Linked DNA regions of Homo sapiens. The protein of the gene in region 4 purifies or fractionates together with the protein of the main gene of each other region. This does not show direct contact. Each region holds a gene or a part of one and is shown on either strand. Other genes may lie near its edges.

Region 1 (2,585 bases), on a different chromosome or scaffold from region 4:
CATAACAGTGCATGTTAAATTTCAAATGTCAGGCTCCAAAAGATGGAGGAACAAAACGCAGTTAGTACTAGTTCTGTTGCCCCTGGGATCCCCCACCTCTTCTGTGCCCAGAGAGTGGTGTGTCTGCAGTGCCCATCTGTGTATTTGGCCCCAAACCCACCCCTTTTGGGTCTTTGTCCCTCTTGTCACAACCTGAGTCTTGGGACCCAAGAGCAGGGAGTCAGGTGCACGCTGACCCTGCGGAACACTGTGTTGTGGTGAGGGGGCTGTCTGCTTGTTGGGTCTCTGAGCAGTCCTCTCCCTGCAGATGTGGATGTCATTGCCAAGTTTGCCCAGCTTGAGTTTCAGCTGGGGGATGCAGAGCGGGCCAAAGCCATTTTTGAGAACACGCTGAGCACCTACCCAAAGCGCACAGATGTCTGGTCGGTCTATATCGACATGACCATCAAGCACGGCAGCCAGAAGGACGTCCGGTGAGTGGGGCAGCTGGCCAAGGCCGAGTTCCTCAGGAGAGGGCGTGGTAGGCACTGGTCCCACAGCAGCTCTCAGCATCCCAGTTCTCTTACTTGATCTAGAAAACCAGCTAGATGTGATGCCCCAGGCCCAGTGACATTCACTTCAACTCCTCTTTCTGCCTCAAAGGCCAGCATCTGGTCTGTGTCTGAAACCATTGGTAGGAGGTAGCCTTGTCAAGAGACTCGAGTTTCTCTCATAATTAACACTGTTCCTGACTCTCATTGTAGACTACTTTCACAGGCATTCTCTTGCTTTTGACCCCAGCGTCTCCACAAGACAGGGAGGGTTTAGAGATGAGTAGACTGAGGTCCAAAAAGAACAGGTGCCTCACCCAAGCCCTTCACTATGTATGTTTCTCACTGTTGTGTCCCCCATCCCAGTAGCTTTGTCTTGATCACTGTGTGGCTTTAGGCAGGGAAGTCCCTTACCATCTCTGGGTGTCCATCTGCTCATCTGGAAGATGAGGGTGGTAGTGCCTCTCCCCAAGGCATCATGGGAGTTCATCATGGATTAATAAAGATAATGGTAGAAGTGGGAGTCCTGGATGGGAGAGGGTCCTGGTTCCAGGGCTGAGAGCAAGTGGGTGAGTGCTAGGCAGGAAGCACGTGACCTGGGACTGACAGGCAAATGCCACTCTGCTTTTCCTCAACAGGGACATCTTTGAGCGGGTCATTCATCTGAGCTTGGCCCCCAAGAGAATGAAGTTCTTCTTCAAGCGCTACCTGGACTACGAGAAGCAGCATGGCACTGAGAAGGATGTGCAGGCAGTCAAGGCCAAGGCCCTGGAGTATGTGGAGGCCAAGAGCTCAGTGCTAGAGGACTAGTGGCAGGCTGGCTCTGTGGGACACTGTCAACAATGGGCCAGCCCGGCCCCGCCTCGAGTGCCTGGGCACTCGGAAAACTGTTACCTCAGGACTCTATTTAAATGCTGCTTTTTCTGCAGCACGCTTGGGGAAATCCTGTCAGGATGAAAAGGAAGTTGAGATTTTTTAAATCCCTCTTCGCTTGCTTTATTTTCAGTACCAACTTGTTATCTTTTTCCTTATCTGAGGCTACCTGGGGATTGTGGGCAGCAGGCCCCTGGACTCCCAGAAATGCTGAGGGTCCCTCTTCCAGGGGAGTTCCCTGGGGAGCAAGAGTAGAGGGGCTATTCCCGAGGGTCCTGTGGTCAGGGTCCTGCTTTGTCCCTGGCAGGCTGTCAGTCCAGCTGGAGGGGGTCAGTAGGCTCCAGGGAGTGGGCCCTCCCCTCCGATCTTGGAGTCTCTGGGTGTTCCTTCAGCCTCAGCCTCACTGGTACCTTCTGCCCTTTAGGGGAGGCTATGAGTCTGGGACAGGAGGACAAATTCAGAGCCCAGAGGGGGAAATGGAGAAACCTGGGCTGCTGAGGAAAGCCACGGGTGTTGGCGTGAACTGATGATGTCTCATCCCACGCCCACTATGGCCACATTACCTAACCTCTCCATATCTGGGCTATTCAAGGTCTTGGAGGCCAGCACAGACCCAGCTAGTTGTTGAAGCCAGTTCTTTTTTGTCTTGGTCATGAGGGAATTAAACGTTTTCTCTGGCAGAGCTTTAAGTGTCCTGAGAGCTTTTCCATGGGAAATGACTGAGTCATATGCCAGGAAGCCGGACAGGGCCAAGGGAGAGCATCCAAAGGTTCTAGAGGTGGGGCGGGTGGCGGGCAGGGATGGGAGGAAGGAGAAGCTGGGGCTGGCCTGCTTCTTGGACATGAGCACTAGGTTACGAGAGCTAGTTCTGGCCTGCCCACTGAGCGCAGAATCTTCTGACTCGTGAAATTTCAGACTGTTTCCTTCTGAGAAAGGCCAGGCTTCATCTCTTCCCCACACCAAATCAGATAATAGAACCCAACTGCAAAGAGATCATCAGCCCCAGAGCCTTCCCCTGTGTTGAACCCCTGGTACTCACTGCACCCTCCCTGCCACCCCTGTGGGCCATTTTAGTCCTGTCCCCTTCCCTAACACGGCATAGGATTTGGGCCTGGCCCTATGACCACCAGCCTGCTGTGGCATGCCCATTCAATCACACAGACACCAGGCTAGTCCTTTTAG
Region 2 (3,500 bases), on a different chromosome or scaffold from region 4:
TAGCCTTGGACACTAATTGACAAGTCTGTGGGTCACTGAGTTATTCATCCACAAGGCCATTTCAAACCTCTCTTCAAACTCATATTCACCCTTTCTGCAGACAATCTCATTTATTCTCTACCAAAAGGTGAAGGCATAGCAAAATGGCCTCTTTTATTTTGAAGCTCTACCATTTACATTGTTCCTTCTAGACTACCTTCAAACATGCACAAGTAAAAAAAGAACCTTTATTTGCCCTTGTTGCTTCTGTCAGCTGCTATCTTAAGAGTCAGCTTTGGCTCATTTCTCCCCTTCAATCCCTTAGAACCAGTAAAGTCCCAATAATGCTAACCTTGAAAAATTTTTTTGATTCCCATCATCACATTCATAGTGCAGGTTCTTTTTCTTTCTTTCTTACTTTTGAGGCAGAGTCTCACTCTGTCGCCCAGGCTGGAGTGCAGTGGTGTGATTTCTGCTTACTGCAACCTCCGCCTCCTAGGTTGAAGTGATTCTCCTGCCTCAGCCTCCCAAGTAGCTGGGATTACAGATGCCTGCCACCATGCCCAGCTAATTTTTGTATTTTTAGCAGAGATGGGGTTTCATCATGTTGGCCAGGCTAGTCTCAAACTCCTGACCTCAGGGGATCTGTCTGCCTTGGCCTCCCAAAGTGCTCGGATTATAGGCATGAGCCACCACGCTCATAGTGCAGATTCTTAAATAAATAAGATTCTTGTAACTAGTTACATCTATCTGATGCACCTTATCCACAAACGTCAGATTAGTAGTACAATGTTGAACCTTCTGTTAATCAAAGATTTGCAGTAATGGAAACTAGTCAACAAGGTATTAAAAACCTGATCATTGGTTCTGCTTTTCCTAACTGATTTTGTTTCCCACTCCATTTCCCCATAACATTTTTTTTTTGTCTGTTTTTTTTGAGACAAAGTCTCGCTCTGTTGCCCAGGTTGGAGTGCACCGACATGATCATAGCTCACTGCAGCTGTGACCTCCCAGGCTCAGGTAATCCTCTAACCTCAGCCTCCTGAGAAGTTGGGACTACAGGTACACGACACCATGCCAGTTAATTTTTGTATTTTCGGTAGAGATTTTGTTTATGTTGCCCAGGCTGAACCATACTTTATACTTCTACTTCTATTTTATAGTTTGTGGTATTCTTCTGACCTTCATTTTAACTCTGTCCTTCCTTTCAGGCTGGTTCAAACTACACTGAGCCTTCCCTGGTCACTAAAACTTGTGGCCCTTCCTATCCTACACCTCATTTACTATGGGCTCTCCATCTTTTGGTCCTTAAGGTTCTTCTCAGGTTCTTCTCAGCATGTCCTTTGTGGTGCAACAGCATTAGGCATTTCTCCAAAAGAACCTAGGCATAGTGCTATATATAGTAGGTACTAATACTTGTTGAATTGAATTGAATTTCTGGGCCTGTTTTCTTATCTGTAAAATAAAAGGTATAGACTAGACAGAACAAAGATCTCTTTTGGTTCTAACTGTTATTACCCTATGAAAATACTCAAGGAATAATCAAAACAATTATTTTTTTCTAATATGATTTTGCAAAAGCTATGCTTGTGATAGATACCACAAATCAAACACTAAGTATGGTAAAAACCATAAACATCTAATCCAACTTAAATCAACAACAGCACCTTACTACATAAACAAAATGCAGACTGGGCATGGTGGCTCATGCCTATAATCCTTTGGGAGGCCAATGCGGACGGATCACTTGAGGTAAGGAGTTTGAGACCAGCCTGGCCAACACAGCGAAACCCTGTCTCTAGTAAAAATACAAAAATCAGCCGGGCATGGTGGCACACACCTGTAATCCCACCCGCACTCCAGCCTGGGTGACAGAGAGAGACTCCATCTCAAAAACAAAAACAAAAACAGGCTGGGCGTGGTGGTTCACACCTATAATCCCAGCACTTTGAGAAGCCTACATGGGCAGATCATGAGGTCAAGAATTCAAGACCAGCCTGACCAACATGGTGAAACCCTGTCTCTACCAAAAATACAAAAATTAGCCAGGTGTGGTGTTGTGCGCCTATAATCCCAGTTACTCAGGAGGCTGAGGCAGGAGAATCACTTGAACCCGGGAGGCGGAGGTTGTAGTGAGCCAAGATCGTGCCACTGCACTCCAGCCTGGGCAACAGAGCAAGACTCTGTCTCAAAACAAAAAACCAAAAAACCGAACACATAAAACAACAACAACAAAACAGTGGGAAACATAAAGAGAAATCAGATACTCCCTGCACTTGGTGACTTATATATTAGGTGAAGAAACAGGTCAAAGCAGAATTAAATGCTACATATAGGTAGGAGTGATGTGTTCCTCTATTACCTGTTTTTCCAAAGCAGCCTTTCCTACTTCTTTTGTGCATGATGTGAGTGTTTCATTCAAGCACTGTAAGCTAAAGAAAAAAAAAGAAGAAATGAAACTTTATCCTAAGCTCAAGTGAAGACTTCAATAGCAGTTCCATAGGTATACCTTGCCAGTTCAAGCCGATCACAAAGTTTTTCCACTTCTTCCATCATTTTAACCCGCTCTGCCTCATTATCAGAAAAATGATTCCAGGTCTAAAAGCACAAACACAAAAATAGTATCTACACTCAAAAATACATCCATCAACATAATTACAAAGCTGTAATCCCAGCTACTCGGGAGGCTGAGGCAGGAGAATCGCTTGAACCTGGAGGCGGAAATTGCAGCAAACTGAGATCACGCCACTGCACTCCAGCCTGGACAACAGAGCAAGACTCCATCTCAAAAAAACAGACAATGACAACTGAACAGGTATAATTTTATCTCAGTGTAAATGTTTTTAACTTTTTCTTTTCTTTGAGACGGAGTCTCACTGTCGCCCAGGCTGGAGTCCAGTGGCACGAAATCGGCTCACTGCAACCTCCACCTCCCGGGTTCAAGCTATTCTTCTGCCTCAGTCTCCTGAGTAGCTGGAATTACAGGCGCCTGCCACCACACCTGGCTAATTTTTTCTATATTTAGTAGAGACGGGGTTTCACCATTTTGGCCAGGCTGGTCTTGAACTCCTGACCTTGTGATCCACCCGCCTCAGCCTCCCAAAGTGCTGGTTACAGGTGTGAGCCACCGCGCCCGGCTGTTTTTAACTTTTTCTAAATTTCAGGTGTACATATTTCAGTTTTCAACCCTGATAGTTTTTTTCTAAACATAATCATCTTACCATTATCAAACCAAAAAACAAGTTAATATTCTAAAACTGTCCCAGCACTTTGGGAGGCCGAGGCAGGCGGATCGTGAGGTCAGGAGATCGAGACCATCCTGGCTAACACAGTGAAACCCCGTCTCTACTAAAAATCCAAAAAATTAGCCGGGCGTGGTCCCAGCTACTCGGGAGGCTGAGGCAGGAGCATGGCGTGAACCCAGGAGGCGGAGCTTGCAGTGAGCGGAGATTGCGCCACTGTACTCCAGCCTGGGCGACAGAGCAAGACTCTGTCACAAAATATATATATATACACATATA
Region 3 (3,500 bases), on a different chromosome or scaffold from region 4:
TGAATTGTAGTGTTAAGTTACAGCATTTGTGAAATTAGATTTATAGAGACTATTCTGTTATTCAGCCTGGTTAGGAAATGATATAGTCTGCTTCATTATATAGGCAACTTTTTTTTTAAACTTCCCTAAAAGCCTAGCACGTCTCAGTGACTATTCCAAGAAGATAATTGATCTCTGTGACTGTTATAATTTTGGAGGGGGAAATACTACTTTTTTATAGTCTATTTTGACATATAAAGACTGATACTTATTTCAGAATCTGGTTAACTTTGGGAGGTTTTATAGCTGTATGACCTGAAATTCTAAATTGCTCAAAATTAATAGTTAACTAAAACATGTATTTTTAAGCAGCACGTTTCAATAGACTTGAAAATAATGGTTGTCCTACCTACCTCTTTCCTCTTCTGTACCTGTTCTGCTGCCACCTCTATGGACCTTCACTGTGGAAAAATCAACATGCAGGTTTTGGGAACTCTAAGGAAGTAAAAGAGACATCAGATAGCATAAATTAATGAAAGGAACACTAGCTTTGGAGTCAGAGACCTGGGTTTGAGTCCCATGTTTCAAATTACTAGCTCTATAGTTTTAGACAAGTTACAAAATCTAGCTGGAATGCAATTCTCATCTGCAAAATGCAGCTAGTTCCCGTGAGTTAAATGAGATAATACATGTAAAGTGCCTGCCATATGGTGTATATATTCAGTAAATGGCAGCTATTGTTATTGCCTATTTTGATAGTGTATTATAAATAAAAACTAGGGGACATCAGACTGATCTGCACAGTCTATACAGTGCTTAGTTCCTGCCCATTTTTTAATATTGCCTCCATTTTTTAATATTGCCTCCATTTTTTTTATTTGCCTCTTCAAATGCCCCAAAACTTTATGAATTCATTTGTATTAATACTTTCCGAAATGAATATGTCAAACAGGATTATGGTTCTGTTAGAAATTAACACATTAGTCTGAAATGGCATATACCATTTGCTTTCTTACAACTAAAATTTAGTGACAAATGGAGTCAGTATTGAGCAATAGAAAGTTTGAATATGGAAAGAAGGAAATAATCTTGGACTTAGGGCAAGCAAATAAAAGATACCCAGCTAAGAACTTGTATCAGCAAGGAAATAGTAATAGGGACCTATAGAGACAGGATCCAGGTGTCGTGAAAGATGGAGCAAGAGAAATTGGTTGCCAGTGTAGAACAGCTACCAATAGCCAAAATCAAATGTTGATTACTTGAAGCTGGATTAACCAGTTGCATAATATATATTGCATGGATGGACAACAAGAATACATTAGTGCATTTGGGAGAAAACTAATGAGGGAAAACCGTGACAGCTTCTGCCTACCCGAATGTCCCAAGAGGGTAGACTCCATTATCTTGGAGCACTATTCAGTGTTGACCTGCCCTTCCGCTGCTTCCCTTTTTCCAAACATCTTATTTAAGCAGTGGAGGCTGGCCCGTAAAAGGAATGGGATTACGTACGGATGGGAGGGAAGTTTTAAGTGAAGCCTGGAATTTACTGAGTGTTAAGGCTCTTGGAGCCTCAGGAAGTCATCCTTTTCTTTCGAGACTCCTCTGTATTCATGTCCCAAGTTGTCTTCTGAAACACACATAAACACGCAGTTCCTTTACTATCATGTTAACTTTTGGGACCTTATTAATCCAATGAGGACCATTATTCTCCTAGTTTTATTTTAACTGTGGTTTGGGGTTGACTGTAACCTCCTTTTTTTCTACCTTGTAATTCAGGTTAATCTTTAGGTAGGGCTCTGTCCTAAACTCAGGAAGAAGCCTTTTTGAACTTCTCCAAATTGCAAATCATTCTGTTTTCAAGAGGTGCTATTGGTATCTCAGATCTGCAGTGTGATATTTAGAAAGGTTATTGCGCACCAACCAGCCCAATAACTTAATGAGGTTTCTCTGGGAAGTAGTTTATTAAAAACTGTAGAAGGAATTTGCTTGGAGTCAAATATACCTAGGTTCAAATATCATCTGTCACTTAATAGTTAACATTTACTGGCCCAGACAAGGTTCTCAGTGTTTTGGGGAGAAGGAGAGAAGAGAGACAAGCCAACTACAAGTGATAAATATACTAGCTCCTTTGATTCTCTCAGTGGGATATGTATTATTACCCTTTTTGCAGTTTTGAAAACAGGCATAGATATTAAATAACTTGCCCAAGTTTACTAACCTGGCAAGTAACTGTGCCAGGGATTCTAACACAGGAAGTCTGCCTCTAGAGTCCTTGCTGTCCACCACTGTCTCTCTGAGGTAAATCTTTTAACTTTCACAACAACCCTAAGTGAGACTCACTTTACAAATAAGAAACTGTGGCAAAGAGGGTAATTTACCCAGCTCTGTTTGGGATTAAAATTTGGGCAGTCTGGCTCCAGAGTTTATGCTTCTAAATGCTTGCACTATACAGCCAGCCCCTTATTAATGACTTAACTTCAAATGAATTTATCATTTCTGAGTTTCTGTGTATCATAGAATTGTTGAGAGGATTCAATAAAGTATATATTCAGGGGTTATGTTTATGTTTAGTGAATACTAGATAAATAAGTGTCCCCTTTCTCTGTGGAAAAATGTTAATTTCTGAGCTCTAACTTAGAGGTGAACACAACTCACTTATTATCTCTTTAAACTGGTTATTTATGTGCCAGAGCAGTGTAATGAAACCTGATTTTTTTTTTCTTCTTCTGGGATCGGGAGTTTATACACCTTTACCAGAAACTGCCATTGTGAGTGCTTTCTTTTCTTACTGGCCAGGTCCCCTTAGGGGACATTTTTCTTTCCTAAGTCTATCTGGCAGTATCTGCTTTGCTATTTGGCCTTATTTATTCATTGTTTCTTCTCTGTAGTTACAGATGGAGCATGGGTTGAACCGCAGTTTATTTTCTCTGGCAGAGCACCTGTAGATGCTGTTTAATCCTGATCATATTTTTTTCTAGAGCCTCCTCTCCCTCCCGTGAGAGCTCACTTTTTGTAAAGGAAAAGTATGGCATTTTATACTTAGTTGCTGCACTGTGTTCATCTGTATGTATCACATTATGTTGACCATCTTTCTTCAAATTGAATTGAGTGTTAAACTTTCTTTATAGAAACAAGGGAAGCCATCCGTAAAAGGCTCAGTGCAGAAACATCCAGCTTGTTTGTGCTTCTTACCTTTTTTCATACACATAGGCTGTAGAAAATTCATGTAGAATTTTGTATAATACCATGTTGGGATGTTAAATCATGAAACAAGCATTTAAGTAGAGGAAAGCAAAGTTTTGGTATATGGATATAGATGTCATGAATAAAGAGATATTTCCCAATGAGAGATAACCATTTAGAAGCAAAACCCTCTGTACTTTTTTGTCTTAAGACTATTGAAAGATCTTTTACTGATTTTGAGGTTGCTGTAAACATTATGTCATGTTGTATGTTTTTAAATACTAATTGTTTCAGTACTATTGTTTTCTTTTTCTAGCTTGTCCACGTGGTGGTATTTT
Region 4 (4,123 bases):
GAGTTTGAGGCTGCAGTGACCTATGACCACATCACTGTACGCCAGCCCGGGTGAGAGAGGGAGACCCCGTCTCTAAAAATAAAATGTAAAATCACTGAAAAAATGAGTGTTCGGTGAAACAAGTGGGATTTTCTGGGCCAGCAAGTCTTCCAAACTGTATATGATGCATCCTGTCTCCATGTGTAATATATTTTAATGATAAATGTATTTTTAACAGTGGCGGTTGTGTATGTTTTTATGTCTTAAGAGATGGCAGTTCGCTGCAGCTGGATTTTGTGGCTCAAGCCTTGGGGCCAAAGAGACATATTCCTGGCAGTCTGGTGGGTACCAGTCACTATTCACATACTTCCAGCAAGAAATGGTTATGGCACTGACCTGAACCCCTTGACCCCTGGTCTGGTCTTTGGAGTTGTCCCACTCTGAATATTCGAGAGAAGCAGCTTATGGTTAAAACAGGCAGTGGCAGCTGGGAGGATCTAACAGCTAGATCCTCCAGGCATTTGGAAAGGACAGGGGCATAACGAAGGCAGAATCGCTTCCTGGGTACGAATGCCCACTACTTCTGGGCACTGTGAAATGGGTTTAAGACGCGGGCCAGCAGGACAATGTGAACGGTGAAAGGAAGGGAGTGGCCGGTAGGTGGCGCTAACTGGCCCGGGCATGAGTCCCGCCGTAGCCGCGTCCTCTTGCAGGGGAAGAAAGTTGGGACCGCCAGCCTGGGCAAGCGCGTGAGAAGGGAGCTGGGGGTCCTAGGCAAGCGCGTGAGAAGGGGAAGAGGCGGCGGCGTCCTCTCCAGCTGGGCTTAGAATACTCTTAGTTCTGCCTTTGGGGTCTTGTCTTCCTTTCTGGGCCTCCTGCCTGTGTTAACTTTGATGGGTGCTGAAGGGAAGGCCGGGGTCCCGGCAGGAGAAACCCGGGAACGTCGCGGCCGTCCAGGCTCCCCTGGCGGGTTGGAGCCAGGGTTCTGACTGCCAACTGTGGTCCTTCCCGCTGCGGCTGTGGCTGCCAGGGCGAGGGCGGTCAGCGCAAACCTGGCTGAGGACATTTCGGATTCTTCCTTGGGGATTCGTTCCCTTCTCCTTGACTCCGGTGCCGCGAGGGCGACACCCTCCGGGCCCCGCGTGGCCACCCCGGGCGCTTCCCCACGCGGATGAACCCACCTCCTGGGCGCCTTCCCCTCGGTGCCCCGCTCGCCAATTGGAGGCTGCAGCTCAGCCCCCTGACAACCTGAGCCAACCAGAGGCGCCAGGGAGGGGCGGATCCTCTGTCCCCACCTTCCTCCGGAAAGAGGAAGCGGAAGTGACGTTAGGGGAAGGTGGGGGCAATCATGGTGCCGCTGGGGAGGGGAGAAGCTGCTGCTGCCGCCGTTGCCGGGAGCCGCGGAGGTAAAAGGCGAAACTAGACTCGGCCTGGGCTTGGGACTTACCGGGAGGCGCGGGACTTAGGCTCCCTCCTGAAGCATTTCCCAATAGAGACCTCAGTTTGGTCACCATAGGGACCCCACCCCTTCTCCGTTTCCATGGGGATGGGTATCCAGCCCCCCTTCCCTGTTTCCATGGAGACCCGGACCCTGCCCCTCTCCTCCTTGCTTGGAGACCCCCAGCTTGTCTTCGGATTTTTCTGTGTAGCCCTGTGCTGGGGGCTATCCCAGACAGGTTCCTTTTCCCAGCCTCCTCTCAAGGGGGCTCTGTTCGCACTCCTCGTTGGCTACCCTCAAACCTCCTGGTCTTGTTTGTTTCGGACAGTTGGTCTCCGCGTTGCCGCCGAGGGTGCCGGGGCAGCCCACTGGGGCCCTCGGTGCTCTTCTCTCTCTGCTCAGATGCAGCGAAATGTACATCTGTGGGGTTGCGTAAGCCAGAGCTAGGGGTCGGGCCGGTACCTCCCGGATCCAATCCTTTGGCCTGTCTCTGGTAACTGTCTAGCCATCCCACTAAGTAAAGGCTCACTTTCTAACCCAGAGCAGAAGAGAAAGATAAAGCGCAAAGCCAGACTGAAAACTAAAAGGGATGTGCTGATTATTTTAAAATTCTCTATTCTGCCTGCCAAACCCACATTTGTAGAGCCTGTGTTTGCAGATGAAGGAAGAATCACTATTCCAGAACATGAAAGCTTCAAATGTGGTATTTTTCTCAAGAGAATGTATCTTCCCAAGATAGTATATCTTCACGAGAGAGTAGGTAGCCATGTCTTTCAGTCATTTAGCTGACATTTCCTGAACTCTTATCATAGTATCAGTGTACTATGCTAGGAGCTGTAGAAACAAAAATAATAAGACTCAATTGATTCAGGGACGAGAGCCCACCACAGAACCATAACTTCTTGTTGACACCATATTGTTTTAGGACATAAATAGATACAGTGATCTTCGTTGTTTGTGCCTGATTGAGGAATAGCCCTTCCACCCAGAAGGTTGAAACATCTGTTCTAGGTAGGGGGGAAGGAATTCATACTTGTTCCTCTACTATTTACCAAACATTGTGCTTTACATATGTTGCCTCTTTTATTTCTTATAAAAACTTTGAGAGAACAGGAATTACTGGTCCCACCTTGCACGTAAGAAAAATGAGGCACAGAAAAGTTACCCATGTAGTAAAAGGCAAAGACAGGATTTGTAGGTAGATGACTCTGCCTCCAAAGCCTTGCTCCTTCTACCATAAACTGCATGAAACCATTTACTGCCTCGTGGTCTGATTTGGAGGATATTTGAATGGATGGAGTTTCCCTTAAGATTTGTAGCAACTCAGCCTTTCAGCAGCTGCTGTTCTGTTTGCTCTTTTGTCCCCTTTAAATATTTTGACCAAGTTTCAAATTGTTTGACAGGCGTATTCAGAAGGTCTTATGAACTTATTCAGTTTTTGAAAAGCATTGCTTTTCTTTCTTTTTCTTTTTTTTTTTTTTTTATTAGAGATGGGGGTCTCACTATGTTGACCAGGCTGATCTCAAACTCCTGGCCTCAAGCGATCCTCCCATCTTAGCCTCCCAAAGTGTTGGGATTACAGGTGTGAGCCACCACGCCCAGTCGGCATTGCTTTTCTTTAAAAATGACTTGATGGTTTTAAAGTTAAAATAAAAAAATTATTCCCAAGGATGGTTTTTCATTTGCTTTGGCTTGCTCTTTAAGTGAGAGGGAAAATGAGCCTTGTGGTTGCTGAGGAGGTCCGTCGGTCTTGTGGTATGACTCTAACTCTGGCTTTGTTCTGTTGCAGACAAGTCATTACGTTTTCATTTCTCACAACTGGGCTGAGCACAACTGAACCATGGGGGAACACAGTCCAGACAACAACATCATCTACTTTGAGGCAGAGGAAGATGAGCTGACCCCCGATGATAAAATGCTCAGGTTTGTGGATAAAAACGGACTGGTGCCTTCCTCATCTGGAACTGTTTATGATAGGACCACTGTTCTTATTGAGCAGGACCCTGGCACTTTGGAGGATGAAGATGACGACGGACAGTGCGGAGAACACTTGCCTTTTCTAGTAGGGGGTGAAGAGGGCTTTCACCTGATAGATCATGAAGCAATGTCCCAGGGTTATGTGCAGCACATTATCTCACCAGATCAGATTCATTTGACAATAAACCCTGGTTCCACACCCATGCCAAGAAATATTGAAGGTGCAACCCTCACTCTGCAGTCGGAATGTCCGGAAACAAAACGTAAAGAAGTAAGTAAAGCAGTCAGTGAGGGCCTAGTTTGGTTTTGGGGCAAGTCCTTACAAAATTCTTGGTGCAAATTTTAGCTGGGGAGTAAAGGAGTGCATGGGGTTAGGACTTAAGTAGTTTTGCTATCAACAACATATGCCTCAGGTTTTGTTGTGATTGCTTCTGGAACTTTTGGTTTGTATAGCCACATTGAAATTTGGGAATATCAAATTGTAATTTCTCGAATTTCCTTCCCCAAATCATAAATAAAACAGAAATTTCACTTAAGTAGACCCATGTTTCTGGTGCTAAAATAACTATTTAGCTTATCTACAGGGAAATAACTGGAGTTTGCTTATTTGATGAAGAAATAACTATATTTGGCTTATCTCCTGGTTGTGTTTAAATGATTTGTTTTAGAGATGAGTATCTGCTGGAATATGTTTTATTATCTTAGTGAATGTTTAATGAACTTTTATTT

What was found. The genes of interacting proteins can lie anywhere in the genome.
Region 1: the proteins of MTF1 (region 4) and PDCD11 purify together in Homo sapiens (affinity purification with mass spectrometry, with the first as the bait; one large-scale study listed by BioGRID). This does not show direct contact.
Region 2: the proteins of MTF1 (region 4) and DNAJC2 purify together in Homo sapiens (affinity purification with mass spectrometry, with the first as the bait; one large-scale study listed by BioGRID). This does not show direct contact.
Region 3: the proteins of MTF1 (region 4) and ZC3H15 purify together in Homo sapiens (affinity purification with mass spectrometry, with the first as the bait; one large-scale study listed by BioGRID). This does not show direct contact.

Annotation. Positions count from the first base shown.
Region 1 is NC_000010.11:103,444,210-103,446,794, forward strand, and holds the end of PDCD11 (protein RRP5 homolog), read left to right. Parts: intron 1-307; coding exon 308-473; intron 474-1,168; coding exon 1,169-1,340; 3' UTR 1,341-2,085; downstream 2,086-2,585. UniProt on the Homo sapiens protein: Essential for the generation of mature 18S rRNA, specifically necessary for cleavages at sites A0, 1 and 2 of the 47S precursor. Directly interacts with U3 snoRNA. Involved in the biogenesis of rRNA.
Region 2 is NC_000007.14:103,317,268-103,320,767, forward strand, and holds part of DNAJC2 (dnaJ homolog subfamily C member 2), read right to left. Parts: intron 2,578-3,500; coding exon 2,489-2,577; intron 2,412-2,488; coding exon 2,342-2,411; intron 1-2,341. UniProt on the Homo sapiens protein: Acts both as a chaperone in the cytosol and as a chromatin regulator in the nucleus.
Region 3 is NC_000002.12:186,489,260-186,492,759, forward strand, and holds part of ZC3H15 (zinc finger CCCH domain-containing protein 15), read left to right. Parts: intron 1-3,500. UniProt on the Homo sapiens protein: Protects DRG1 from proteolytic degradation. Stimulates DRG1 GTPase activity likely by increasing the affinity for the potassium ions.
Region 4 is NC_000001.11:37,856,793-37,860,915, reverse strand, and holds the start of MTF1 (metal regulatory transcription factor 1), read left to right. Parts: upstream 1-1,323; 5' UTR 1,324-1,385; exon of another isoform or gene 1,386-2,428; intron 2,429-3,206; 5' UTR 3,207-3,257; coding exon 3,258-3,665; intron 3,666-4,123. UniProt on the Homo sapiens protein: Zinc-dependent transcriptional regulator of cellular adaption to conditions of exposure to heavy metals. Binds to metal responsive elements (MRE) in promoters and activates the transcription of metallothionein genes like metallothionein-2/MT2A.